Linked DNA regions of Homo sapiens. The protein of the gene in region 1 purifies or fractionates together with the protein of each later gene. This does not show direct contact. Each region holds a gene or a part of one and is shown in the gene's direction. Other genes may lie near its edges. The genes, in order: INPP5E, DCLK1, NAV1, KIF1C, KIF13B, TANC2 and ZBTB21.

What was found.
Region 2: the proteins of INPP5E (region 1) and DCLK1 purify together in Homo sapiens (affinity purification with mass spectrometry, with the first as the bait; one large-scale study listed by BioGRID). This does not show direct contact.
Region 3: the proteins of INPP5E (region 1) and NAV1 purify together in Homo sapiens (affinity purification with mass spectrometry, with the first as the bait; one large-scale study listed by BioGRID). This does not show direct contact.
Region 4: the proteins of INPP5E (region 1) and KIF1C purify together in Homo sapiens (affinity purification with mass spectrometry, with the first as the bait; one large-scale study listed by BioGRID). This does not show direct contact.
Region 5: the proteins of INPP5E (region 1) and KIF13B purify together in Homo sapiens (affinity purification with mass spectrometry, with the first as the bait; one large-scale study listed by BioGRID). This does not show direct contact.
Region 6: the proteins of INPP5E (region 1) and TANC2 purify together in Homo sapiens (affinity purification with mass spectrometry, with the first as the bait; one large-scale study listed by BioGRID). This does not show direct contact.
Region 7: the proteins of INPP5E (region 1) and ZBTB21 purify together in Homo sapiens (affinity purification with mass spectrometry, with the first as the bait; one large-scale study listed by BioGRID). This does not show direct contact.

Annotation. Positions count from the first base shown.
Region 1 is NC_000009.12:136,433,346-136,436,845, reverse strand, and holds part of INPP5E (phosphatidylinositol polyphosphate 5-phosphatase type IV), read left to right. Parts: intron 1-1,982; coding exon 1,983-2,106; intron 2,107-2,711; coding exon 2,712-2,809; intron 2,810-3,500. UniProt on the Homo sapiens protein: Phosphatidylinositol (PtdIns) phosphatase that specifically hydrolyzes the 5-phosphate of phosphatidylinositol-3,4,5-trisphosphate (PtdIns(3,4,5)P3), phosphatidylinositol 4,5-bisphosphate (PtdIns(4,5)P2) and phosphatidylinositol 3,5-bisphosphate (PtdIns(3,5)P2).
Region 2 is NC_000013.11:36,128,583-36,132,662, reverse strand, and holds the start of DCLK1 (serine/threonine-protein kinase DCLK1), read left to right. Parts: upstream 1-1,280; 5' UTR 1,281-1,549; intron 1,550-4,080.
Region 3 is NC_000001.11:201,824,798-201,827,469, forward strand, and holds the end of NAV1 (neuron navigator 1), read left to right. Parts: 3' UTR 1-2,172; downstream 2,173-2,672. UniProt on the Homo sapiens protein: May be involved in neuronal migration.
Region 4 is NC_000017.11:5,025,426-5,028,901, forward strand, and holds the end of KIF1C (kinesin-like protein KIF1C), read left to right. Parts: 3' UTR 1-2,976; downstream 2,977-3,476. UniProt on the Homo sapiens protein: Motor required for the retrograde transport of Golgi vesicles to the endoplasmic reticulum. Has a microtubule plus end-directed motility.
Region 5 is NC_000008.11:29,144,571-29,148,070, reverse strand, and holds part of KIF13B (kinesin-like protein KIF13B), read left to right. Parts: intron 1-468; coding exon 469-679; intron 680-1,530; coding exon 1,531-1,693; intron 1,694-3,500. UniProt on the Homo sapiens protein: Involved in reorganization of the cortical cytoskeleton. Regulates axon formation by promoting the formation of extra axons. May be functionally important for the intracellular trafficking of MAGUKs and associated protein complexes.
Region 6 is NC_000017.11:63,424,235-63,428,203, forward strand, and holds the end of TANC2 (protein TANC2), read left to right. Parts: 3' UTR 1-3,469; downstream 3,470-3,969. UniProt on the Homo sapiens protein: Scaffolding protein in the dendritic spines which acts as immobile postsynaptic posts able to recruit KIF1A-driven dense core vesicles to dendritic spines.
Region 7 is NC_000021.9:41,996,861-42,000,360, reverse strand, and holds part of ZBTB21 (zinc finger and BTB domain-containing protein 21), read left to right. Parts: intron 1-3,500. UniProt on the Homo sapiens protein: Acts as a transcription repressor.

The DNA of each region.
Region 1 (3,500 bases):
CGGTCTGTTCTAGAATAGGAGTCGGCGCACTCTTTCTGTCAAGGGGGAGACACAGACAGTGGGGACCAAAGGGCGTCTGTGTGCCAGTGAGTCTATTAGGGACATACATTGGAACCTCGCTCTTTTTTCTTTCTCTGCCGTTCCACACAGTAAAACCCATTCTGAGTTTGCGGGCCGCGTGTGCACGGGCTGGGTCCGCCCTGTTTGAGAATGGCTGCTGGCTTTTGCCAGTGCCTTGGGGCTGCCAGGGCGGGTTAGGGGGCCTTTCCCCACCCGTTCCTTTTGCTCGGAGAGCTGGCCCAGGCTGTGGCAGCCAGCCTGAGCGTCCTCATGCAGAAGCTGTGCAGTGTCCTGGCCCTGGATGGGGGTCCGAGGCAGCTCTGCCCCTGCCCGTGTCTAGACACAGGAATGGCTGTGAGGGCCGCCCCTGGCCTGCTGTTACTAACCATGCTCTGGACAGAGCTGGGCAGACTGACCACGTGGCTGCTGGTGTGGACATGATGGGCGCTGCCGGCAAAGGGGCCGTGGGCCTCCAGCCTGGTGACCGAGGAGCCCCTGCTGGGCCCGGGATCACTTGACAGGGGTGCCCACAGGAACGCTCTCTGTCCCGAATGACCACTGTGTGAACACAGCTGTCCCGACCGGGATTGTCGACAGTTTTAGGGGTGAGGTAGCGAGGTTCCTCCCTGCTGACATGATTTAACGTGTCCAGTGAAGCTTGGTGAGCCGCAGCCAGGGTTGAAGAAGTTCTCGCGGGAGGTCACAGGAATCCGGCACTATGCTCTCGTGTCCCCTTGCGGAAGGGAACCATGTCAGAAGACGGCGTATCCAGAAGGAGCCGCACAAGTGTTACTTAGAGAGGGAGCGGGGAGGACGGCTGGCAAGCCTAGCCCACGGCGTTTCTGTATAGTCGGCGAGCTGAGAACGGGTTTTACATTTCCAAATGGTTGGAAAAAGTCAAAACCATTCTAATGATGTTTCATAGTACAAGAAAATTGTAAAATTCAGATTTCAGTGTCTGTAAATCAAGCGTCTCGGGCACACGGCTGCACCCCTTGTGTCCACATCCCCTGGTGGCTCTTGCACCACCGTAGCAGAGCCCACGGCGACAGACACTGGATGTCCCACGGAGCGGCAGGCGTGTGCGGTTGCCTCTTGACGGGTTACCAGCCCTCGTGGCAGAAGGTGCTGAGTGTGGGGAGGGGCAGGGACGTTGCTGTGCCACACGGTGTTTAACCATCTGTGTGCACCGCCGTATTAAAATCTGAAAGCATCAGCCTGGACAACGTGGCGAGACCCTGTTTCTACAAAAATAAAAAATAAATAAATAACTAGCCGGGCGTGGTGGCACTGCACCTGGAGTCCCAGCTACTCGGGAGGCTGAGGCAGGAGGATCACTTGAGCCCGGGAGGTAGAGGCTGCAGGGAGCTGTGTTAGTGCCACTGCACTCCAGCCTGGGCACGGAGTGAGACCCTGTCCCCACTAGAAACCAAAACAAGCAAACCCAAAAGTGCGTCAAAGCCACGGGGTGTCGAGGAGATGGACGCGTTTCCGTGTGGCTCGTGTGGTCTCTGTATCTTAGACCGTCCTGCCTGGTGCTGGGGCCAAAGGAGAAAGGAGGAGGACCAGCCCCTCCCCGAACAGCACCCTGTGCCCACTGCCTTGGCTTATAGTTTGGGAGCTCCTCTCTGTGGCTTTTCCAGGATCCCACCACCAAAAAGCCCAAACCGTCACCCTCTCATGCCTCTTCCCGGGAGGTAGGGAGGGGGTGTGAACCCGCTCTGGGTGTTTGTGCAACCAGGTCAGGCCTTGTGTTCCTGGAGAGCAGACAGCAGTGCCGCGGGGGCCAGGAGAGTCCTTGCTTGGGGCTGGGGGCAGCTCCTGACATTCCATGGGTTTTGCTATTGTCCCTGGGGACCTGGCCCAGACCCCCAGGGATGTGTCCTGTGCCTGGCCCTGAGCTTGGGGTCCTCCCGTCACAGGAGTTACCTGGAGGGCAGCCTCCTGGCCAGCGGGGCCCTGTTGGGGGCGGATGAGCTGGCCCGCTACTTCCCAGACCGGAACGTGGCACTCTTCGTGGCCACCTGGAACATGCAGGGCCAGAAGGTGAGTGGCTGTGGGTGGTGCTGGGCGGGGAAGGGTGGGGTGGTGCTGGACAAAGGCGGGTGAGGGGGACGGGGCAGCTCTGTGCCTCATCCTGGGGCCAGGAGGGCAGAGCCCCGAGGTGCACCCCACTGCTAACCGCAGTACAGGAGGGTGAGAGTGGGTAAGGACCCCCATCCCCCAGAGCTCCCACCTGCACCTCCCTGGCCACGTGGCTGCAGAAAGTAGGGGAGGGGGTTGGGGCAACGGGCCTGGCCGAGAATCACCTGCTCAAGGTGAGCGGGAGGGCGGCCAGCGGGGCACGCGTAGGGGTGGCTCAGGGACAGGGTGGGCAGCACGGGCTGGGGTCATGGTGACGGGAGGGTCATACAGGGGTGGTCGTTGGACAGACTCGTGCTTGGAGAGGGAAACAGGCCGAGGGCCAACGTGAGGCGTGTTTGGTGTGTCAGAGGCTGCCTCGGAGACCGGGCAGCTCCCTTTTTGGCCCTGGCCTCAGTTTCCCCTCATTCGGAGGAGTCGCTGGTACTCAAGGCACCGCAGTGGGATTCACCCACAGGCGCCTGCAGGTTTCGGGAGGAGCCGGCCCACCACATGCTCCCTCCTTCCAGGAGCTCCCGCCCAGCCTGGACGAGTTCCTGCTCCCAGCCGAGGCCGACTATGCCCAGGACCTGTATGTCATCGGGGTCCAGGAGGGCTGTTCTGACAGGTAGGGCGGCTGCAGGCCCTGCAGTGCCTGCCCAGGGGCTGCCGTCTCTGAAGCAGCTGGGTGCTGAGACCTGTGGTCATGGCTGGGCACGGGTCTGCAGTGCCTGCCCGGGGGCTGCCATCTGTGAAGCTGCTGGGCGCTGATACCCGGTTCGTGGCCGGGCACAGATCTGCAGTGCCTGCCCGGGGGCTGCCGTCTCTGAAGCTGCTGGGCGCTGAGACCCGGGTGGCGGCCGGGCACGGGCAGCCTCCACGCCTGGGTGGGAGGCATGGGTCAGATTTTTTTCCAGTGGCAACTCGGAGAGTTTAAAATCAATGAGATTTGATTTTGGTAACAAACTGTTGGCGTGCGAGAGTAGAAGGGCAGCCGGAGCAGGGCCGGGCCCCAAGGCCTCCCGGGCCCCCATGTCATGGCGGGAACAGCAGGTGGCTGCCGCCCACACAGGTGCTCTGGGGGAAGGAGTTGAGGTGGGCCCCACCTCCCTGGCCCATGAGTCCCTCAGGCGGGAGGAGCTCTGCTCACTGGGGTCTCGGCGGGGGTCCAGGGGAGCCACTCAAGTGGAACTGGGGCCTGTGGCCCCCGGCAGGTCCCAACTCTGGCCCACCAGGCCTTCTGGCAATTGCTTCTCCGCGCAAGACACCAAGGCCAGGTCGTGGGGTTTCCCTGGTAGCTCCTCGAGGGGCTCTGGGCA
Region 2 (4,080 bases), on another chromosome or scaffold:
AATGTGAAAGAATAGGCTTACTACTTTGCATTTAGTTAATTTGGTGAGTTCACTGTACTCTCATCTCTGGGCTATTAAATAGTTCAAAAATAAATATCGCATCACTTGTGGAATATGTAGCATGGATCTCATTTGAGCTGTGTTTTAAAACAAATGGTAATTATTTAACATTTACATCATACTTGGAAAGTATTTCAGAATAGAACTTTTTAATAATAAGTAGTCAAACACATAACTGGGATCAATGGGCAAGAGAAAAATAAAATTTTAATGTTCCATTGAAAGGTGTAGGCTCAGGAAGAGAGAAAAATACTTATGTGTATTTTGTATACTCATGTGTATTTGGGACAAACACAGGTTGTGGACGACAGGATTGAAAGTCAGATTAACTGGATCAAAATTCAGGCTGCGTACTGAGCCAGTCTAAGATTTCACCGAAATCTGGGAGCTGCTCCCACTCCCTGGACTTTTGTGCAAAGACTGGAGGAAGCTGTGAACAGCCTGGGCTAGGAGAACATTCCCCCTCTGGGAGGAGAGGCTCGCATGAGCTCATGGGGCTTTCCACCGCAGACCCAGCCTTGGCAGCCACAAAGTGTCCAGCAGTGAAACCTGGCCCTTCAGTTCTCAAGGGCCCTTTGGAACATATTTGACTCTAAGCAGAGGTCACTATTCCAAGAGTGACTCATGTCTTGGGGTTAAGTGGAGATGATGGGTGGGATCCATGAACAGATCCAGCTCTTCCCAATGTGGGGGGCACCAGAGTGCATAGCTTGGGAGGGTTGGTCATCCGAAGAGGCACTGCGTGGGTGCATCCCGGGCAAAAAGGATGAGAAGGTGATCCACTGGCTTCCATACCCTGGGAAAGGTGTCAGACCGTGAGGTCACATCAAAAGGTATGAGTGTGGGTACCTCCTTCCCTCCCCCGACGGTGGGGGCCTCATCTCTCGGCCATATCACCTCTGTGCCTTGCACACTTCCTGGCTCAGACTCAGCCCTGTCCACGTTCTCTTCCACCATCTGATCTGCCCCCATCTCCCAAAGACTACTTGTGGGGACTAGGGAGGTTTAGGGGTGTAGTCAAGCCAGATGCACCGAGGTTGCTGCGGTGGGAAGAGGGCGCTGGGAGGGAGGAGGACCTGGGGCGCAGCCGTGGTGGGTGCGCCCTGCCAAGAAGGGCGGGGGCGACGGGGCGCGCACGCGGAGGAGGAGGAGGAGGAGGGAGACGGGAGGGCGTGTGAGCGAGTGAGACAAGAAAAGGGAGCGCGCCCGCCGCCGCCGCCGCCGCCGCCCTCCTCTGGAGAGAGAGGCTGGAGTGAGGCTGTGCGAAGCGCCGCATTTCAATGAGGACGGGCCGAGGCACATCCCTGCACTAGTGGCCGCAACCGAGGCGCCGCGCTCCAGCAGCTGCTGCCGCCCAGCCCGGCCCCGCCGCCGCCCCCCAGCCCTGCAGCCCCGCAGCCCCGGCCGCGCCCAGCCCGGCGAGGACAGCACCAGGAGGCGGCCCCCAGCGCGGCCACAAAGACCCCCGGCGGCGTCTCTCCGCGGACCGGTGCGTGGTTTGCCTTCCCTGGGGACGGGAGCTGCGGGGAGGGCGGCCGGGGGACTCCGCAGAGCCCGCTCCGCCCGCAGCCGCGGGGCGCCGAGGGCAGGGCGGGCGCTCAGCTTGGCCCCGCCGCCCCGCCCGCAGTTCCTCGAAAGGCGGCCGCCCTGCCCTGGCCAGCCTGGCCCGACCCGGGGGCGTTGCGTGCGGGCGGCCCCGGGGCTGCTGGCACCTGCCTCTTTTGTTTGGTGCCATGGGGCTTTAAACCTGGAGTCAGGCGAGCGGGCCCTCCCAGGCTTTTCGCGTTGTTAGTGGAGATGGAGAGCCAGGGCGGAGGAGCTGGGAGAGGTGCTTGTCATTGTCAGAACTGGCTGCGGAGCGGGAACCAAGGAAGGAGTGGCCGGGCCCGGCCTCTTATTGTGTGTGTGCTTTTCCGTGTGCCCGGGCCAGTGATGTGTGCTTGTGGATGGGGTCGATTCGTGCGTGGTGGTGGCTGCAGCGTGGGTGTTGCAAGTACGTTTGCAGGGTCTCAAGTTCCTTCAGGGACAGCGAGGCTGCCTCATGTTCAAATTAGTACCTGCAGTGCTAAAAGCTTGCGGAGAGGAAATGGCATTTTTTCCTCCTAGTGGGAGCGCACGCACAGCCCCGCAATGCCCCACAAAAGAGGCTGCTTTTGAAAACCAGGTTTGCGCGGAATTGCTCCTGGATTTGGCAAGGAGATGCTTGGTCGGTGAGAGAGAAGATGAAAGGTTTCATTCAAACCGGCTCCCTCTCTGCTGCACCTGTGAGTGTGTCCAGGCACGGTGCACACACGTTCAGCGACCACACTGCAGGCTGTTCCGTGAATACATTTTATGACTGTTCCTAAATATATTGCCTTTCAGTGGGAAAGGAAAGTAGGACAGCGTTTTAAGTATGAAATGTCACATGGATGCAGGTCAGAAGGGATTTTTTAAGAGAGGTCATATAGAGGAAAATTATAAAAGATATGCACACACCCTGTGATGTCTACGTCCGTGGTGGTGCACGGGCCTGGAAGGTATGTGTGCGTTTTATTTCATGCCAGTCCACCTGAATCCTAATCCCACGGTTAAAATATGCCTTGGGACTTCCAGGTCCAGCATCTATTTAGATGTGGTAGCATTTATGCCATTTTTTTCTTGGTATATATGTGTGTAAATTTCTGAAACAAGAACCATGTGCTCATCTAGAGAAGGATGAACATAGATTCCTCAAAATGGTGAGAAATCCCACCGAGAACAATCAGGGATGTTGGTTTCTTGAAATGGCAGGATTTATAGGAAAAGCTCTGATGAGAGCCAGTGGCCCTTCTTACCTCCAGTGTCTGTGGTCGCTGTGGCTGAGGTGCTGTGGTTACCATCCTGGTGCCACTGCACATGTGCACTCAGGCCCTTGGCCACCTATGGTCTCTGAACATTGAGCTGTGTGTTCTCGCAGCCTTCCTGTGCAGAAAGTGTAAACCTGTGGAAGGCCAGTGGATCTTCAGAAGCTCATGCATGGTTCAAATGTATGACTAAGCCAAGGTGAGGGAAAGAACACCTATTTTGTTGCCACGAATAATTACCAGCACACTAGGGTGTGGAGTGTGCTCCATTTAGAGGTAGCTGTAGCCTTGAAAATGATTTCACTCTGAGTATGGTTTCTTTTGTCGACACCATTGCCCACTTTTGGACAGATTCAGGGAAGGGAAGTAAAAGGTGTAGCCCTGCCCTGGATGAACCTGTGATCCAGTTTGAGGAAATATGCAAATAAAATGAAACAAAGTAAACCTTTTTTCTATTTTAAATTGTTCTTTTCTTCTTTTTTCATCTGGTGTGGGAATTCTTGGTCCTAAAAGCCCGTTCCCCCAGGGAATTCTAACTATTGCCAAATTATTTGGCCTTTGCCAATTGTCAGTCACTGAGAATTCGATGTGCACTCTTTCTGGTAACAGAACTGTGCCATCCTTCCCTATGGCCCTGCTTGTTTTCTTTTAGTTTATATCAATTTGGAAGGAAATCCCCAAACTCCTAGTGTTGGGAGAATGATCACTGCCTTTAAGAATAAAACACAAACTTCAAAAGTGAGTTTGGCCTTTATAATTTACAAAATGTTGAAGAACTTAGTGAGTTGGTGTGAGTACTGGGAGTGTCTTCCACTCCACCCCCAAGACACACTCCCTTTTAGAAGACAAGAGAGCTCACTTTAAAACCATATAAATTAAAAAGTAAGAGCAGTTACCAATATCCTGGACAAAAATTGGTTCTGTTTAACAACTAATGCCTACAGGACTGGATATCAAGGGATCATTGTTTTAAAGTTATCTAACATCAAAATCAATGAAACCAGTTCAGAGCTGCCTATATATAACTGTTTTTGAAAAATGCAAATTCTGACTACTATGAGTTATTAAGAGGCAAGAAATAGTTTTCATATTTGGAGGGAAAAAAGTACACTGAACTCATTAACACTCCAGGTTTAAATCACACTTCATTTCTCCCTCCCCAGACCTTCAGTGGGGTCAGCAATAGACCCATAAG
Region 3 (2,672 bases), on another chromosome or scaffold:
GCATCAGCAGCCTTTGGGAACTTGTTAGAAACGAAAATTCTCAATCCCATCCCAGATCTGCTGAATCAGAAACTCTAATGAGAGGACCCGGCAATCCACGTTTTAATAAGCCCTCCTGGTGATTCTGATGCACACTAAATTCAACTGTTTTAAAGGGAAAGCCCTTTATAGTATTGGAGTTCCCACACTGAGAGGCTTTGGGGCCCAAAATAAGAAGGTTCTAGGTTGTCATTCAGACTTTAACATTAATTTCAAAGTCACCTTTCTCATGCTTCCTTGTGTTTCTGTTTTTCCATTTATGATTTTAACAAAGAAAGGTATGTGTGCTTTTGGGTGGAAGTTAGGAGAATGTTTGTGTCTTTCCTAGTTGAATACAACCTTCAGAGAAAAACCTTATGCCTTGGAAATTACTACCTGGCACACAAAGGGGCTTCAACAAGGAAAAGCAGTTGGAGGTCTCTTCCAGATTGCTCTTCTGCCGAATTATTTGTATCTATTCCGAGCTGATTATGTAATAGGATGGAAAAAGTAAAAAAAAAAAAAAAAATCTAATTTGTATTTCCATGACAACGTGTTCTCCCAGCAACATCCCTCTCCTTTATTTGAGTTATAAAGGGCACTGCTGGGCCTGAGAACCAGGCCAGAACCTCCTTCTGTATGGCAGCTAACAGTGTAGGGCTCCAGTATCCCAGGAAGGCCCCTTATCCACACTCCACTCAGCTCATAGGAGAGTCTTGCATAATGAAGACACAGACCTGGGCACTTCAGTCCTTGTGCTCCTCCTCTCTTTTCCCCACAGCAGGACCTGGATACAGAAGTACTCAGCCAAGGTGACAGAATAAAATCCTTTTTTTGTTGTTTTCTGTTTGTTTGTTTGTTTTGGAGAAGGAGTCTCGCTTTGTCACCCAGGCTGGTGTGCAGTGGCACGATCTCGGCTCACTGCAACCTCCGCCTCCCAGGTTCAAGCGATTCTCCTGTCTCAGCCTCCTGAGTAGCTGGGATTACAGACGTGCGCCATCACGCCCAGCTAATTTTTGTATTTTTAGTAGATACGGAGTTTTGCCTTGTTGGCCAGGCTGTGCTGGAGCTCCTGACCTCAGGTGATTCACCTGCCACAGCCTCCCAAAGTGCTGGGATTACAGGCGTGAGCCACAGCACCCTGCCAAATAAGATCCTTTTTAAAAAATATCTGAAAAAAGCTTCATATCTTTACAAACTCATAAAATAGCTGATTGGGCCATGGAGGAGATGAGGCTGTTTAGAACTGGTTTTGTTTCAAGTTTGTCAATTTTCCCTGTATGAGAACTTGGGTAAAGCACAAAGAAACATACAGTGCTAGTAACAGGTCTCCTGCGCCCTGGAACTAAGTGTTTGGAGGAAGGACTAAACCCCGGGGGAGGTGAGTATAAAATAATTCCACTAAGATCACCTCCTCAGTCCCCAGAAGGCTGATGGTGGATCCTCTGGCCATCTCCTGTGGGGTCTTACTGCTCCTCTGCCATTTCTCTATGCCTGAAGACACGAAGATGATATCAAGGCAGAGCTACCATATCGCAGCCAGTCTCTAGGCTACTGCTGTGCAGTGGCTCCCACTTTCTAATGCTTTTTTGTTTTTGCTTTTTCTAACAAAACAATCTTTTTTCAAAATGAATTCCAACCCCTGCTAGCTTCCTTCCCCGCCTCCATACTGTTTTAGGCAGCACCGTTTATGTGACAGAGTCCGTGTTTCTCAAATGCATGGTGTTCCTCAGGTGGAGAGTGGGCAGAAGTTTTTGCAACACTTTTTTTTTAAGTTATTGGGTGCAAAATCCCAAACCAGGATATGTGTATGTCTGTGTGTTTATGTTTTTTATTTGACCCTCCCCTCTTTCAACCTACCCCCTTTTATATCTAATGTAGAAAAAGCGAAATTGAATCTGGAAAGCAAACTGTTGTATATAGTTGCGGTAACAATCATGAAGAGAGAGCCGGGCTGTCCCCTCAGTAATTCATTTTAAATAACAAATTATTTAAAAATAAAATTCATGCCAGAGCCAGCTGAAGAGGCCTTCCTTCATCACCACTGAGGCCACCCCCAATCTGGGCCCTCTGTCCATCTGGCATGTCTCCTCCCAGCAAGATTCATCTGTTCAATGCCATTTGCGTTTCAATAAAGTTATCTCCTGTACTGTCCACTGGTTCTCTAGCTCCCTCTCTGCCTGGTTTCTGTCTCCATTTATCTTGTGGCCCATTCCTTGATTGGCAAGGCCAGACTGCTTGTGGTCATTTGCCTAACCCAGAAGTAACCTGAAACCCTAAGCTAGAGTCTCCTGACTCCCATGGTTGGGGGTGGGAGGAACCCCTGCTCGCACATTATGGACATAGAATCCTTCACCGGATCTCAAAACATCCAGCCCAAACATCAAGGCTCCGGAGTCCTCCATCTGGGTTGCTGCAGTGTTTGAAAACATACCACCCTCTTGACTTTGCTAAATTTTCTTCTTGGGGTAAAAGTGAACTGACCTATTAGAAGCTGTTGTAATCAAGTTCAACTTCTTTTGGCCACTTCAAGAAAGTAAATAGGCTTACTATTCCCCATTGCAAAATTGAAGGGTCCAAGAAGCAATCTTTTCCCTATGAAATTGTAGTAACATAACTCATCTCTGCCCTCTTAACATGGGAGGTGACAAGTG
Region 4 (3,476 bases), on another chromosome or scaffold:
AAGCATACTGCGCTTACCTGATTGTTTTCATCCTGGTTGTGTTACCTGCCTTCTGGCAGGCTACATCATTGTTCCCAGTCGTTATTTTATTTGTGTTAAGACTGTTTGTTGGCCAGGCGCAGTGGTTCACGCCTGTAATGCCAGCACTGGGAGGCCGAGGCAGGTGGATCACGAGGTCAGGAGATCGAGACCATCCTGGCTATCATGGTGAAACCCCATCTCTACTAAAAATAAAAATAAAAAAATTAGCCGGGCATGGTGGCGGGGGCCTGTAGTCCCAGCTACTCAGGAGGCTGAGGCAGGAGAATGGCATGAACCTGGGAGGCGGAGCTTGCAGTGAGCTGAGATTGCGCCACTGCACTCCAGCCTGGGCGACAGAGCGAGACTCCATTTCAAGAAAAATTAAAAAACTGTTTGTTGCCTGCTTGTTTTAATGTTCTGGCTTGAGGCAGCGAGCCCTTGACTATGCCACATTGCCAGGATTTTGCAGGTTAGATTGTACTACAGCACTGCCTTTGGCTTGCCAGACTCTGGAGTCCCCACATTTTCATCCTGTTCTCAGGAAAACACTTTGACCCACTTGAAGCTCTGAGCTACTGCTTCACAGCTTCCTGGGGTCAGTCTCCAGCCAAAACCATAGATATCCCAACTGCAGCCAAACCACGGCTCTGGGCGAAGGAACGATTAGGTTTACTCTAGGTTTCCACACCCTGATGCTCCTGCCTTTACTTTGACACCTCTGACTGCCAGGTTTTCACAGACCTGTTGACAGTGACTCAAGATCTGGAATGTAATGGATGGTTTGGCAACAGTGTTTGCTTGAGCAGTTTAAAATCTGGCCAGGGAGACTCAATGTGAGCAAGAAAATGATAGAATACCAAGTTTTCTGGAGGTCAGAGGGAGCTGAGTTGAGTGTTACCGAGAATGCTGTGGGGTTTGAGATGAGAAAAATAGCTTGCTAATTTAAAAGACGGATTATTTTTCCCTAAAGACCTTGACTTATGTAAATGTATATTATCCATAATTTTAAAAATCCACTTATGGCTGGGCACAGAAGCTCACACCTGTAATCCCAGCACTTTGGGAGGCTGAGGCAGGAGGATCAGTTGAGTCCAGGAGTTCGAGACCAGCCTGGGCAACATAGTGAAACCCTGTATCTACAAAACATAGAAAAACTAGTTGGGTGTGGTGGTGTGTACCTGTAGTTCCAGCTACTAGGGAGGTAGGAAGATCACCTGAGCCCATGGAGATTGAGGCTGTGGTGAGCTGTGAAGGCACCACAGCACTCTGGCCTGGGCAAGAGTGGGACTCTCTCAAAAAAAAAAAAAAAAAAAAATCCACATATCCAGCCTTCCAAGTCAGTCTTTAATAATGTGCACGGGCCAGGCACAGTGGCTCACACCCGTAATCCCAACACTTTGGAATATTAGGGTGGGAGCATCACTTGAGGCCAGGAATTTGAGACCAGCCTGGGCAACATAGTGAGACTGCCCCCCCCATCTCTACAAAAAATAAAAATCAAAAATAATACTGTGGGCAAACTTTACTTAGATTTTATTCAGAGTAGTGCCTGTTTATTTTTCATCTGTGCTACCTGTGCCGGCATTCCATATGCATTTGATTTAGTCTTTAAAGTACCCCGGTAAAATAGGTCTTTTGTCTGCATTTTTCAGATGGGAAGACTGAGGTTTTGTTTATTTATTTTTATTTATTTATTTTTTGAGACGGAGTCTCGCTCTGTTGCCTAGGCTGGAGTGCGATGGCACAATCTTGGCTCACTACAACCTCCGCTTCCTGGGTTCAAGCGATTCTCCTGCCTCAGCCTCCTGAGTAGCTAGGATTACAGGCGCCCACAACCGCACCCGGCTAATTTTTTGTATCTTTAGTAGAGACAGGGTTTCACTATGTTGTCCAAGCTGGTTTCGAATTCCTGACCTCAGGTGATCCACCCGCCTCTGCCTCCCAAAATGTTGGGATTACAGGCGTGAGCCACCACGCCCAGCCTATTTATTTATTTTTTTAGAATCAAGATCTTGCTATGTTGCCCAGGCTGAACTCGAACTCCTGGGCTCAAGCAATCCTGCCTCCCAAGCCAAGCAGCTGGTACTGCAAGCATGTGCCACCGTGCCTGGCTCCTGAAGACTGAGGTTGGTTTAGATTAATGAGTTGCCCAAATTCAGACAGTTCTTAAGTGGCAAAGTTAGGATTCCAACCCAGGTCAACATAACTAAAGCCCAAACCCCATCTCACCCCTCTAGGCCATCAAGTATTGGCTGGGTGCGGTGGTTTATGTCTGTAATCCCAGCACTTTGGGAGGCGGAGGCGGGAGGACTGTTTGAGCTCAGGAGTTTGAGACCAGCCTGGGCAACATAACAAGACCCTGTCTCTACAAAAATATATAAATTAGCCGGGTGTACTGGCTCACACCTGTAGCTACTTGGGAGGCTGAGGTGGGAGGATCGCTTGAGCCTGGGAGGTCAAGGCTGCGGTGACCTGTGATTGCACCACCAGGAGACCCTGTCTTAAAAATGTATATATAAAAATAAAAAGAACATCAGACATCACCATCACCTCGCTTAGAATCCATGGGGCCTTCTCCTCAAATTCAATCTTCCCAGGCATTTCATGAACTTGCGTCTAGTTTCTGTTCCCTCTCAAATTGCCCAGGCTGTCCTGTGAGTGACAGCAGCTATTTCGTGGGCCTCCTCTGGAATCATGAGAAGTCACCCAAACAATCTCAGTTTTCTAGCTCACTCCGTCTTGACATTTCTACACTGTCATCCTTGGTTTTCTTGGAAATTAATTTGCTTTTCTTCATTGTCTTTCTTTGGAGCTGCTTTCCTTTTGTTGGTTACTATTTTATTTTTAGCTTCTCACACCATACCGACATATGTTGGTTATTCTTTTAGACATGTTTTTTGTTGTTGTTGTCACCTGGAACTTTTGTATCTTGAATAAATTTGGGGATCAAATACATTTTTTCTCCACCAGTCTTATTTATACCTTTCTATATTCAGAGCTTCAAATTTGGTTTGGTTTGAAATTGTTCTCCCCCCAACCTTTTTTTTTTTTTTTTTGAGATGGAGTTTTGCTCTTGTCGCCCAGGCTAGAGTGCAGTGGCATGATCTCCGCTCGCTGCAACCTCCGCCTCCCGGGTTCAAGCGATTCTCCGGCCTCAGCTTCCCAAGTAGCTGGGATTACAGGCATGTGCCACCATGCCCGACCAATATTTGTATTTTTAGTAGAGATGGGGTTTTGGCATGTTAGCCAGGCTGGTCTTGAACTCCTGACCTCAAGTGATCCGCCCACCTCAGCCTCCCAAAGTATTGGGATTACAGGCATGAGCCACCATGCCTGGCCTTTTTTTTTTTTTTTTTTTTTTAACTTTTATTTATTTTCGAGAAGGAATCTCACTCTGTCGCCCAGGCTGGAGTACAGTGGTGCCATCACAGCTTATTACAGCCTCAACCTCCCAG
Region 5 (3,500 bases), on another chromosome or scaffold:
GCACACCACCATGCCTGGCTCACTTTTGTATTTTCAATAGAGACAAGGTTTCGCCATGTCGGCCAGGCTGGTCTCAAACTCCTGACCTCAGGTGATCCGCCCACCTCGGCCTCCCAAAATGCTGGGATTACAGGTGTGAGCCACTGTGCCCGGTCAAATTTCTCTGCTTTAGAAACTTGCCTGTCATTGGCTTATGATTGTATTTCTGGAGGATTCGCCATGTCTTAGGTTATGTGTAGAACATATAATAGACCTGCTTTTTCTGCAGGGAAGATGGTTGAGGATATGTCTGAGAATATATAACAACATGAGTGATTGAAAGTCAGGAAAGCTAAGTTTATGCCAAATTGTCTTTAAAGTATTAGGTGGTATAGTTAAGATGACAGACAACATTACCATATAGAACAACATTTGAAGTTTATTATGTTGTAACTCTCGATCATGTATCTTTTTTAAAAATGTGTTTAGATCCGATGCAGTCCATATTAAACAGCTTAGAACAACAGCATGAAGAAGAAAAACGATCTGCACTGGAGCGCCAGAGGCTTATGTATGAGCACGAATTGGAGCAGCTCCGGAGAAGGCTGTCTCCTGAGAAGCAGAACTGCCGGAGCATGGACAGGTTTTCTTTCCACTCGCCCAGCGCTCAGCAACGCTTAAGACAGTGGGCTGAGGAGAGGTAGGCGGCACAGAGGGGCCTGTTAACTTTATAGCTCAGGCTTGCCACCTCTAACACACCTAGGGAAAGTGTCAAATGGGAACATTAAGATGGTGCTTACAAAAGAATTATGTTAAAAGATAAGTGTTAACAGCCAAGAACCACTTTGCATTTGTTTTTAAAAGGGGAATTGCCCATTTATATTGCATTATTTAAAACTGTTGGTGTTAGGTGTTGCTCCATTTTCAGTTGGTATGGCTTTTGGATTTGGATATAGAAGTACACTTGATCATTGTATTATGCTTTAGGTTCTGAAGCTTGGGTAGATGATTTTTAGAAAAACAAAGTTGGTTATCTGGACTGATTAGCTCAGGTAGGTAAAGCATGGTGCTGATGAGATGCAGATTGCAAATTTGATCTCTGTATGGGCTAATTAGCATTGCATTGAAATGCCTTATCCCATGGTTGCAGACTGTACTTCACTAACCTCATACTATTTAAAGTTTGGTCTGCAGGCAGGCAGCTTCCCTTTTACCTGGAGATTGATAGAAATGTAGGATTTCAGGCCTCCACCTCAGACCTGCTGAGACAGAATCTTGAGTTGATGAAGATCCCCTGGTGATCTGCATACAGGGGCACTGCTGTTATCTACAGCCGGCTTGCTGTGTGGCTGCTTTCCAGTGCTTATCGTGTAGTTGAGGTTCAAGCGTGTGCATGGGTCAGTGTCAGCAACACAGTCCCTGCGTGCAGACGACCACGGAAAAAGCTCAATTCACACTTTGGCAATGATGTACTACCACTGTATGATTTTCTGACTAGCTGCTTTGTGTTAATCTCTTCCCTACCTCTGCCGCTTCTTTATTTTTTTTTAGAGAAGCAACGTTGAATAACAGCCTGATGAGGCTGAGGGAACAAATTGTTAAGGCCAATCTATTGGTGAGAGAAGCTAATTACATTGCTGAGGAGCTGGATAAAAGAACAGAATACAAAGTTACCCTACAGATTCCAGCCTCCAGCCTGGATGCCAACAGGAAGGTGAGGTTGCCGTTCCTTGAAAAAAACAAAGATCTCATTGGATAAGATCGCCTGATATTTCCTGGTGTTATTTAAGCTTCAGATCCCTGTCTGTGCCTGCCCCAAGTCCAGATCCTTTGTCCTCCATGCTTTTGGGTAGAATTGACTTCCTTTTCCATTCTCTACCTTTGAGTGTATGTATATTTTATCTGCTAGGGGAATATACTCTGCATCTCACCTGGCCCTGACAGTTCATTTCACTCAACTTTCTTCCTTCAAATCTGTTTAAATTCTTTCTTAGAAGTCTTTTCTGATTAATCTTCCCCGAATGTCTTTTTTTCCTTCCTTATGCTACCACTCTACAACCCCTTCTCCACAAGTTAGGTGTTCATTTTGCTTATGTTATTTTCTACTTGGAATAGCTTGCTCTGTAAAACTGCTCATTAGTTGTGTCATGGTGTCATGTATATATTCAGGATCATACTTTTTTTGGTATAATAAATTTAATAAAATGTAGGGGGAAAGTCCCATCACAATCTTCTATCTTTGCCATTCAGTTGGGTTTTTTTCCTTCATCTTTTTTTTTTTTTTTTGAGGTTCTTTTCTAGCTCTTGATCACATTCATACATAATTTTTGATGGATTAGGTAGAATTTTCTATTCAGATGAATTTTTTGTGGATCCGTGTGTTCTGTTTAGCCTGCGGTAGTCAACACAGCAAAACTTTAATCAATCCATCTTGGATATTCTATTTTTCTTTTTTTTGTTTGAGAGGGAGTCTTACTCTGTCACCCAGGCTGGAATGCAGTGGTGTGATCCTGGGTCACTGCAGCATCTGCCTCCTGGGTTCAAGCGATTCTCCTGCCTCAGCCTCCTCAGTATCTGGGATTACAGGTGTGTGCCACCACGCTGGACTAATTTTTGTATTTTTAGTAGAGATGGGGTTTTGCTGTGTTGGCCAGGCTGGTCTCAAACTCCTGACCTCAAGTGATCCACCTGCTTTGGCCTCCCAAAGTGCTGGGATTACAGGCGGATATTATTCTAATTTGATAGCAAGGATTACATCTTTCCCTATGACATCATAGCATCAAGGTCAGCGTTTTGTACAGGGTTAGATATTTGGCAAATATGATTCTTAGTATTTTGAGAAAGGTATTGTAAATATGATATGATCGTTACTTTACAGATCATTGTTTTTGTATACTCTGTGTGTATTTTGAAAATTTTTACTTAATTAGAACACTAGTATTTGTAGGGCAAAGTCTGGGTACAGTAGGACTCACCAAAAACCGAAGAGGAAGGCCAGTCACAAGGAGAAGGTTCAGGGCCTAGTTTCTCCTTGAAGGCTGAGAAGTACAAGATCCTCTTTGATTTTATAGTGTATAAGTTGAAAAAAGCAGAAACCTGAAAGATTTTTCCCCAGTAAGCATGACCGCAGCCCTTTTCTCCGTAACCTCTTTTGGGCTTTGTTGAAAGGTGTGGCTCTGCACTGGGGCAGCCATGTCAACGCCTGGAAGAACTCATGTCGCCTGGCATCTCTCCTTAGTTAGGCTGACTCTGTAGTCTTTCGTGCAACAGACTATTTTTTGGTATTTGAAAAGTTGTTTAAAGTCCTGTCCATTCTGTGAACTCTTCTCTGGTGAATTTTTTTCTTATTTCCAGTTTTGCAAGAGGGCTAAGTTATGGTAGCTGCACCATATTGCCCGTTGCTATTATAGTCCCAGGTCCAGCATTCTCCCCCAGGAAAGCCACTACCCACACAGGTCACAAATGGGATTTTTGTATTTATTCACTGGCTGGCTGAATATAAGGTAGGAGGGCCTTTAATT
Region 6 (3,969 bases), on another chromosome or scaffold:
CCAGGACAAAAAGATTTAGGGCCTATACCCTATGGGCAAAACACCTAAAATGTCAACAGTCAAAATGCCATTCTTTTTGGCCATCATAAGAGGGAGTAGGTATCACTGCTGCATGCCAGTTGTTTTTGACTAGAATATGCCAACCAGAGCTTGTTGGGGCAGGAGACGTTTTTCCTTACAAGCAGACTGCCTGTGCCCTGTGCCCTGTTTGCTACTTCACTGCCATGGAATGATCCGAGTACTGTATTTCAGAGCTGCCCCTTCCCCAGCAGCAAACACTCGCTGAGTCCATGTCTGGCTTCAGGTGGGAGGAAATGTTTCAGATGAAACTTACTCAATTCATACCACCCTGAAATGGAGGACAGAGGTGACAAACTTCAGTTTAATAGGTTTCTCACCAAGTTGTATGTTCCATTGGCCCAGGATTCTTGCACTAATGGGTTTCTATCACATCATGTCTATAAATGGGTGCACTTTACTGTTTGAATTTGTAACTGAAGTACTGGATATTTAAGTGTGAGTAATGTCTTCATTAGAAAATAGCAGAACCGCTCTTGTCTTTTAGTGTATTTTTCAAGAAAAAAGGAAAGGAAAGACATCAAGCAGTGGATCACAACATTTATAGCACAAGAAATAACTTGTATATAAGCATCAAAAAGATTAAGAATTTTTTAATATGAAAAATATTTGCAGTGATTTTAAAGTGCTTTTCCAGCAATGTTCTTAGGGACTCCTGAGACACGGTTACTTTATCTACTGGATCAGTAAGGCACACAATTAACAATTAACAATTAATGTTTATTTACAAAGTAAAGGGAAAACCTGTGTAACATGAGAATTTGGCATGACAAAATGGAGACCATTTTGTATCTGCTGTTGTATCTTGTCCGGGTTGCAGACGTGCACTATTAAAGTCCCAAGTTAATAGAGCACAAACCCTTCTCGCTCCTCCCCCATGTGCCCCTCTTTTTAGATGTGTATAACTTAAACTCGATGGCTCAGGAAAATTCCACTAATTAGAATCATGTACAGTACCCCAGGTCGTTGTCCAGATATACAAGTTTGCTAATGTAGTTAAGCCTGGATTATTAAACACTTTTCCTAAATTATTGTAAACAGAACAGCTTAGAGAAAGGTATTCTCAGTCCTTAATATTGTATAGTAGTTTATGAGCCCCTCTCTAAATATTGGTATTTTTATATTCCAGAGATGTACCCAATAGAAAAAATTAAAAATTAATCAGTATCTAATTTAATATCCATAAGTATTTTTCCTTAGATTTTAGTCACGTACAGTGGGCTATGTGGATGTCACTTGTGCTTCACCATAGTTTACCACTAGGTGTCACTGTGGCTCTGCACTGCGCTTGTTTTGTAGCAAAGAACAGCGGCATCCCCTCGGGAGAGAGGAGCTGCTTCCAGGGCAACAGGCAAGCGGGCTCAGAGGTTCAGGAGAAGGCAACAGAGGCCTGGAAGGGGTCTTCGTGCATCTGTGCCAGTTGTGCAAGACGAACTCTTTGAACACTACATGCTTTGGACTTCAGCCAGGCAGAGGCTGGAAGAAGGTTGACCAGAGCTCCCTTGCTCTGGTAGAGGGATGGGTACATGGAGAAGCCCCTTCTTCCCCATGAGCCTCCCTCCTGTCAGTTCCTCTCAGCCTCCAGCTTTTATAACTCCAGAAGCGTCACAGTTGGGTGGTTTGATTCAGAGAGAGTTATTTTTCTACTGCAGAAATGCCTTGGACAAAACCAGTGCTCACTGAATCTTTGCCACAAAATGGAATAGGCTATCCCAGGGGGCAAGAGGTGCCCGCCCCTGTGCCCAGCCTCCTCTTGATGCTCCCAGTGCCCAGCAGCCTCGCACACCCTGCCTGTCTGTTCCTGGGCTGCCCATTTCTCAAGAAACCGACCTGCAAAGGCAGCCGGCTGCTGCCTCCACACCGAGGGCTGTGCGGTCCTGCTGCTCGCTCACTGGGAGGTGCAGCTCTTTCTCCTCTTCCTCTAGGAATTCCAGACCGACCATCTACCATGACTAACAACAATGAACAAAGGGCTTAGGGGCAAGAGCTACCTGCAAAGACGTGTCATGGAACCCTTCACCATGCAATGCCTTGAACTCAGCTCTGGCTGCTCCCAAGAAAAGGTGGCTGGCTGGGGGCCTGGACACAAGCACAATGGGGCTGGTGGAGCCACTGTGCAGAGCTACTTGAATAATCACTGGGTTTTCATCAACTCCTTTTGTCATACAGACCACTCAAGGGCTGAAGTGTTGGTAACCTTCATTTCGGTGTCCAAAGCCTCACAGCAGGTGAGCCACCCTGAGATGCTTGTGGCCACATGGTGGCCACAGTCAGAGCTTTGAAAGTCAGTACCAAATGAACGCATAATTGGACACCAAAAATCAAGTGTTACTTTCATGTTTCCTCACCCCATCATCTCATTGCCTCCTGCTGACTCTGATACCGACGCTGAGCTGACTTGCCAGGCTGCCGCTGGACGCGTAGAGATCAGGCCAGCGCCGCGCTCATTTTTCCAGGTAGACCTACTCTGTGGAACGGAAGTGCCCTAGCTGCTTTGTTTTTGTAGCACTTGCTGGCTGAATTTTTCTTTTGCTAATCGCTAACCAGAAAGTCTGGTTAGAGGGGGCTCAACTCAATCCCTTTGGTCCCCAGCGCCAGACAAGAGTTAATTCTGGAAAATTCAGTACTTGAATGTACCTGCCTTATTGCATACCAATTTACTGGGGGGAAAAAAAAAGTTAAGAGATGCCGGCTCCAGATCTCCACTTCATTCACAGGTGATTTTGGAAATCCTGTAAGTTACACTTCCTGTTCTGGTTTTGTTTTGTTTTTTGTTTCCTTTGGCTGATTCCTGCTGAGTGAGGCCAGTTCCTCATCAGGCTCAGGGCAGGTGCCTTTTCAGGCGTGGCCTCCTTTCCATCTAGCACAGCATCTTTGTCTCTGTTCTGTCTCCTCCAAATCCAAGATGATTTTAATTAGTACAGACATGTACAGTCTACAATTAAAGAGTGATTTGTACTAATATGATTTTGATTCTTCCTCCTCTTTGCTGTCCTTTCAAGACACTTGCTGGAAAAAGCTTTAATGCACTTAGTTTTCCTTTAGGTTTTCTATGACTCAGATGTAAAGGACTTTCTCTGTACAGTATATTATCCAATGCATGTTTGTTCTCTCTCCTGATATATTGAACACCACACAGTTGTGAAGCCGTGCAGTGGGGATGCCCCACACCCCACAGAGGCATCTACCCCTGTGTATAAGGAAAGACATTTTCCTTTGCTGTACTTGCTTGAGCAGTTTTATTGTCTGTACATGTGAGCTGTGTGAGATAGATGTGAAAAGTTCAAATGAATGCATTTTCCTGCCCCATGTATACAGATTGTCATCTGTACAAGGAACTGTATGTATGAAAGCAAATGTACTTATTTATAAATGGCTAACACTTGGAAAACCATGGTGTTGTGATGCTTTTCTCCTTCCATTACAGCCTCTTCAGGGAGCTGGCTTTTAAGCTTACCCTCCTGAGGATGCAGTGATGGGGGCACCCTCCCTCAGGAGGAATTGGGCAGGTTAGGGCTAAGGCCAAATTCCCGATGATTTGCTTGGTCTCTTGTGGGACATTCAGAGCCACCCCTTTGTGCATTTATTTGCTCGGTCACGTTATTGAGCACCTCCTCTCCTCAGAGTTGGACACTGTGGTAGGCCCTCAAGAGAGCTGTGGACAAGAGACGCCGTTCTAAGGAGCTGTCAGCACAGGCCTGTGACATTTGTTGAGAAAGGGGGGCTTTTTCTTCATTGGAAGAGGTTTCTCTCTAGCTATACCCAGGGAGCACTGAGCTCTTGTTTCATTTTGTAGCTGAAGCTGCACCCAATCCAGCCACCCTACCAAAGCCAAGGCTGAGGTGGGCTGCCAGCTTGAGTGGCTGTGTTTAGAGGCTGCATGCTGAGAGG
Region 7 (3,500 bases), on another chromosome or scaffold:
TATTTGGGAACTGATCCCAGGAAGCACAAGAAAGGAAGTAGGGACAGTAAGGCGGAGATGGAGGCTCATAAAGGGTACATTGATGAACAGGTTGCTGCTCACGTGTAGGATATCAAAACTGAATTCTTTAAAAAATCTGAACTCCTGGTTTTTCTGTCAAACCCCATCTCTCCTAAGGATGCCCTTCCAGTTATTTTGGCAGAATACTTAACTCCACACCTTCTGTTTTCTCCTGCAGTCTGTCCACTAGAAATTCTAATGACTCTGCCTTTACCTCCGTTGCTACCACCCTGGTCCCAGCCACCATCCTCTCTCATCTGGGTCATTACAGTGGACTGCAAGCTGGCCCGCAGCTTCCCCCATAACCTACCCTCTGTTGTCTAATCTCAACAACAGAGCCAGAGCAATCCTTTGGAAATGTAATTCAGGTCTTTGTCATTCCTCTGCTCAGAATCTTCAATGGCTGTCCATTTCATCCATAGTAAAAAATAAAGTTCTTCTGGAGGTCTCCCAGCCCTAGACGGTCTTACTTCTTATTGCCTCTCAGATGTCATCTTACATGGCTCCCAGCACACACTGCTCCATCCCTCCTGTTGCCTTAGCTTCTCCCTTTGTTGTGATGTTCTTCCTCCATTTATCTCCATGGCTCATCCCTCGCCTCCTTCACACCTTCTTTGATCCCATTTTGATGAATGAATGACATGAGAAGTTTCTGGTATAGTTTGTAGTGTAGGTTCCTGTACAGTTAGGTGCTATATAAATGGTAGCGACTATTATTATCTTATTTAATTCCCACAATAGCATTATGTGGTAGCTGCTAGTATTATCCTTATTTTATGGCGAGGTAAACTGAGGCTCAAAGAGGTTGGTTAGCCTAGAACAGTGGCTCTCAAAATATTTTGACTGACCCACAGGAAGGAATACATTTTACATCTCAATCCAGTCCATGCTTGCTTATGTGGGTATGTACATATATATAATAGAAACAAAAGTTTCTCAAGCTCATAATTAGCCTTATGACATTTGATGCATTCTGATATTTTCTACTCTGTCCTAGTCATTTATTTTTTAATTGCTAGTTTTAAACCACCAAGTTGAGTTTAAGAACCCCTTTTGACAAAGACTATCCAAGCCTTTAAATCTGTACCTTTAATTCTGTGTTACAGCTTTTCCCTGTGGCAACATCTGAACTAGCTTTGTCAAAAATTATTAGTGCTAAAAACTCCTCAGTACCCAGCTGAGTCAATACGTGTAACATTATAAGCTTATGTCTTTTTCTGCTGATCTCTGTAAAAGATGGTAAGGGTTTCTTCATACAAATAGATGTAAAGAAAGTATAGTAGGATTAAGGAAAATTTAAATGACTAAGAGAAGAAAAAGGAAGGGAAATTATCAAGTAGTCACAAATAGAATAATTTTTTAAAAAAATAGAGGAATTAAAATTTACCATTTACTTTGAAAGGATGGTAGGCGGGAGTGGACAGAAACTTGGTACAGTCTGACCAAAGTAGTTGTTTGTGGACAGGCTAAAGGCATCATCTCTAGAAGCAAAGTCCTGTGTCTCAGTCGGTTAAATTGAGTCGCATCTTATCAGGGAGTCAGAAGGAATTGTATACCGTGTGTGGCCACTCCCAGGTTGACAGCCTAGGAGACTCTGGGCTCTTCCTGAAGAGCCTGGTGGCTGGGGTAACCAGCAAAGGCCAGAAGAGAACCTACAAATGAGCTGGGGTCAAGTTTGGTTCATCTACAGTTTGCCCGCTAGAGAAAGATAAAACCGTCACAGATAGTTACTTGGGATTCATGTAATCTTAAAAATAAATGTCTTAACAATATTTGAAAGAAAATATGGCATTATAAAATGAAAGGGATGAGCCAGCTGTGGTGGCTCACACCTGTAATCCCAGCACTTTGGGAGGCCGAGGCAGGCAGATCACGTGAGGTCAGGAGTTCGGGACCAGTCTGGCTAATATGGTGAAACCCCAACTATATAAAAATACAAAAATTAGCTGGGCGTGGTGGTGCACGCCTGTAATCCCAGCTACTCAGGAGGCTGAGGCAGGAGAATCGTTTGAACCCAGGAGGCAGAGGTTGCAGGGAGCCAAGACTGAGTCATTGCACTCCAGCCTGGGCAACAGAGCGAGACCCTGTCTAGAAAAAAAAAAAAAAAATGAAAAGGATGAGGTGTTAGAGGAACAGAAGCCTAAATAAAGGGTCAAATACACAGAGTCAGGCATTGTCTCTGCATGAAATGGCTTTGTCTGCATCGAGAGTATGGTGGGGTTAATCTGCCCACTTTCTTTGATACTGAATTAGATGCCTATTAATCCTGCAATTTCTGAAAGTTAAGTGCACATTTGTTGAGTTTTCTTTAGATGAACTCTTTGCAACAACCCTGCAAGAGGAGGGCACAGTTGTCATTCCTAACTCAGGTGAGGGATCTGCCACACCGAGAGGCTAACAGAAACACCCAAGGACAATCAGCCAGCCTGCAAGGAACTGGCATCTCAACCCAAGTGTCTGGCACCAGAGCTTGCACTCTACCACTAGGCCTCCTCTTCTCATGTTTAGATTTGAAGAGCATTTCAGTGAAATATCAGTTTAAACTCTTTAATTAAATTTAGAACTAGGCTAAAGTTTCCTTTGTGCTATTGTTGAAAATGTGATTTGGTAAGAAAATAGTATTCATGAGATTGCAAGGCAAATAGCATAAGAAAGAAAACAAACTTATTCTTCAACACTTCTAATCTTTTTTTTGTTTTTTTGTTTTTTTGTTTTTTTTTTTTTTGAGACAACGTCTTGCTCTGTCAACCAGGCTGGAGTGCAGTGGCGCAATCTTGGCTCACTACAACCTCCACTTCCCAGGCTTAAGTGATTGTCATGCTTCAGCCTCCTGAGTAGCTGGGATTACAGGCACATGCCACCACCCTCGGCTAATTTTTGTATTTTTAGTAGAGATGGAATTTCACCATGTTGGCCAGGCTTGTCTCGAACTCCTGACCTCAAGTGACCTGCCCGCTTTGGCCTCCCAAAGTGCTGGGATTACAAGCGTGAGCCACCGTGCCTGGCGTAAACACTTTCATTAGTAATTAGCAAATAATTTTTTGCTTTCCAAATTCTTTTCTATTTTTAAAGGTCTCTTGGCCAGGCTCAGTGGTTCATGCCTGTAATCCCAACACTTGGGGAGGCTGAAGCAGGAGGATCTCTTGAGCCCACGAGTTGGAGACCAGCCTGAGCAACATAGTGAGGCCCCATTTCTAAAAATAAAAAATAAAAAAAATTACCCAGGTGTAATTAGTCCATTTTCACAATGCTAATAAAGACATACCTGAGACTGGGTAACTAACAAAGAAAAAGAGGTTCAGTGGACTCACAGGTCCATGTGACTGGGGAGGCTGTGTAATTATGGCAGAAGGCAAGGAGTGCAGGGCACATCTCACATGGTGGCAGGGAAGAGAGAACTTGTGCAGGGGAACTCCTCGTTATGAAACCATCAGCTCTCC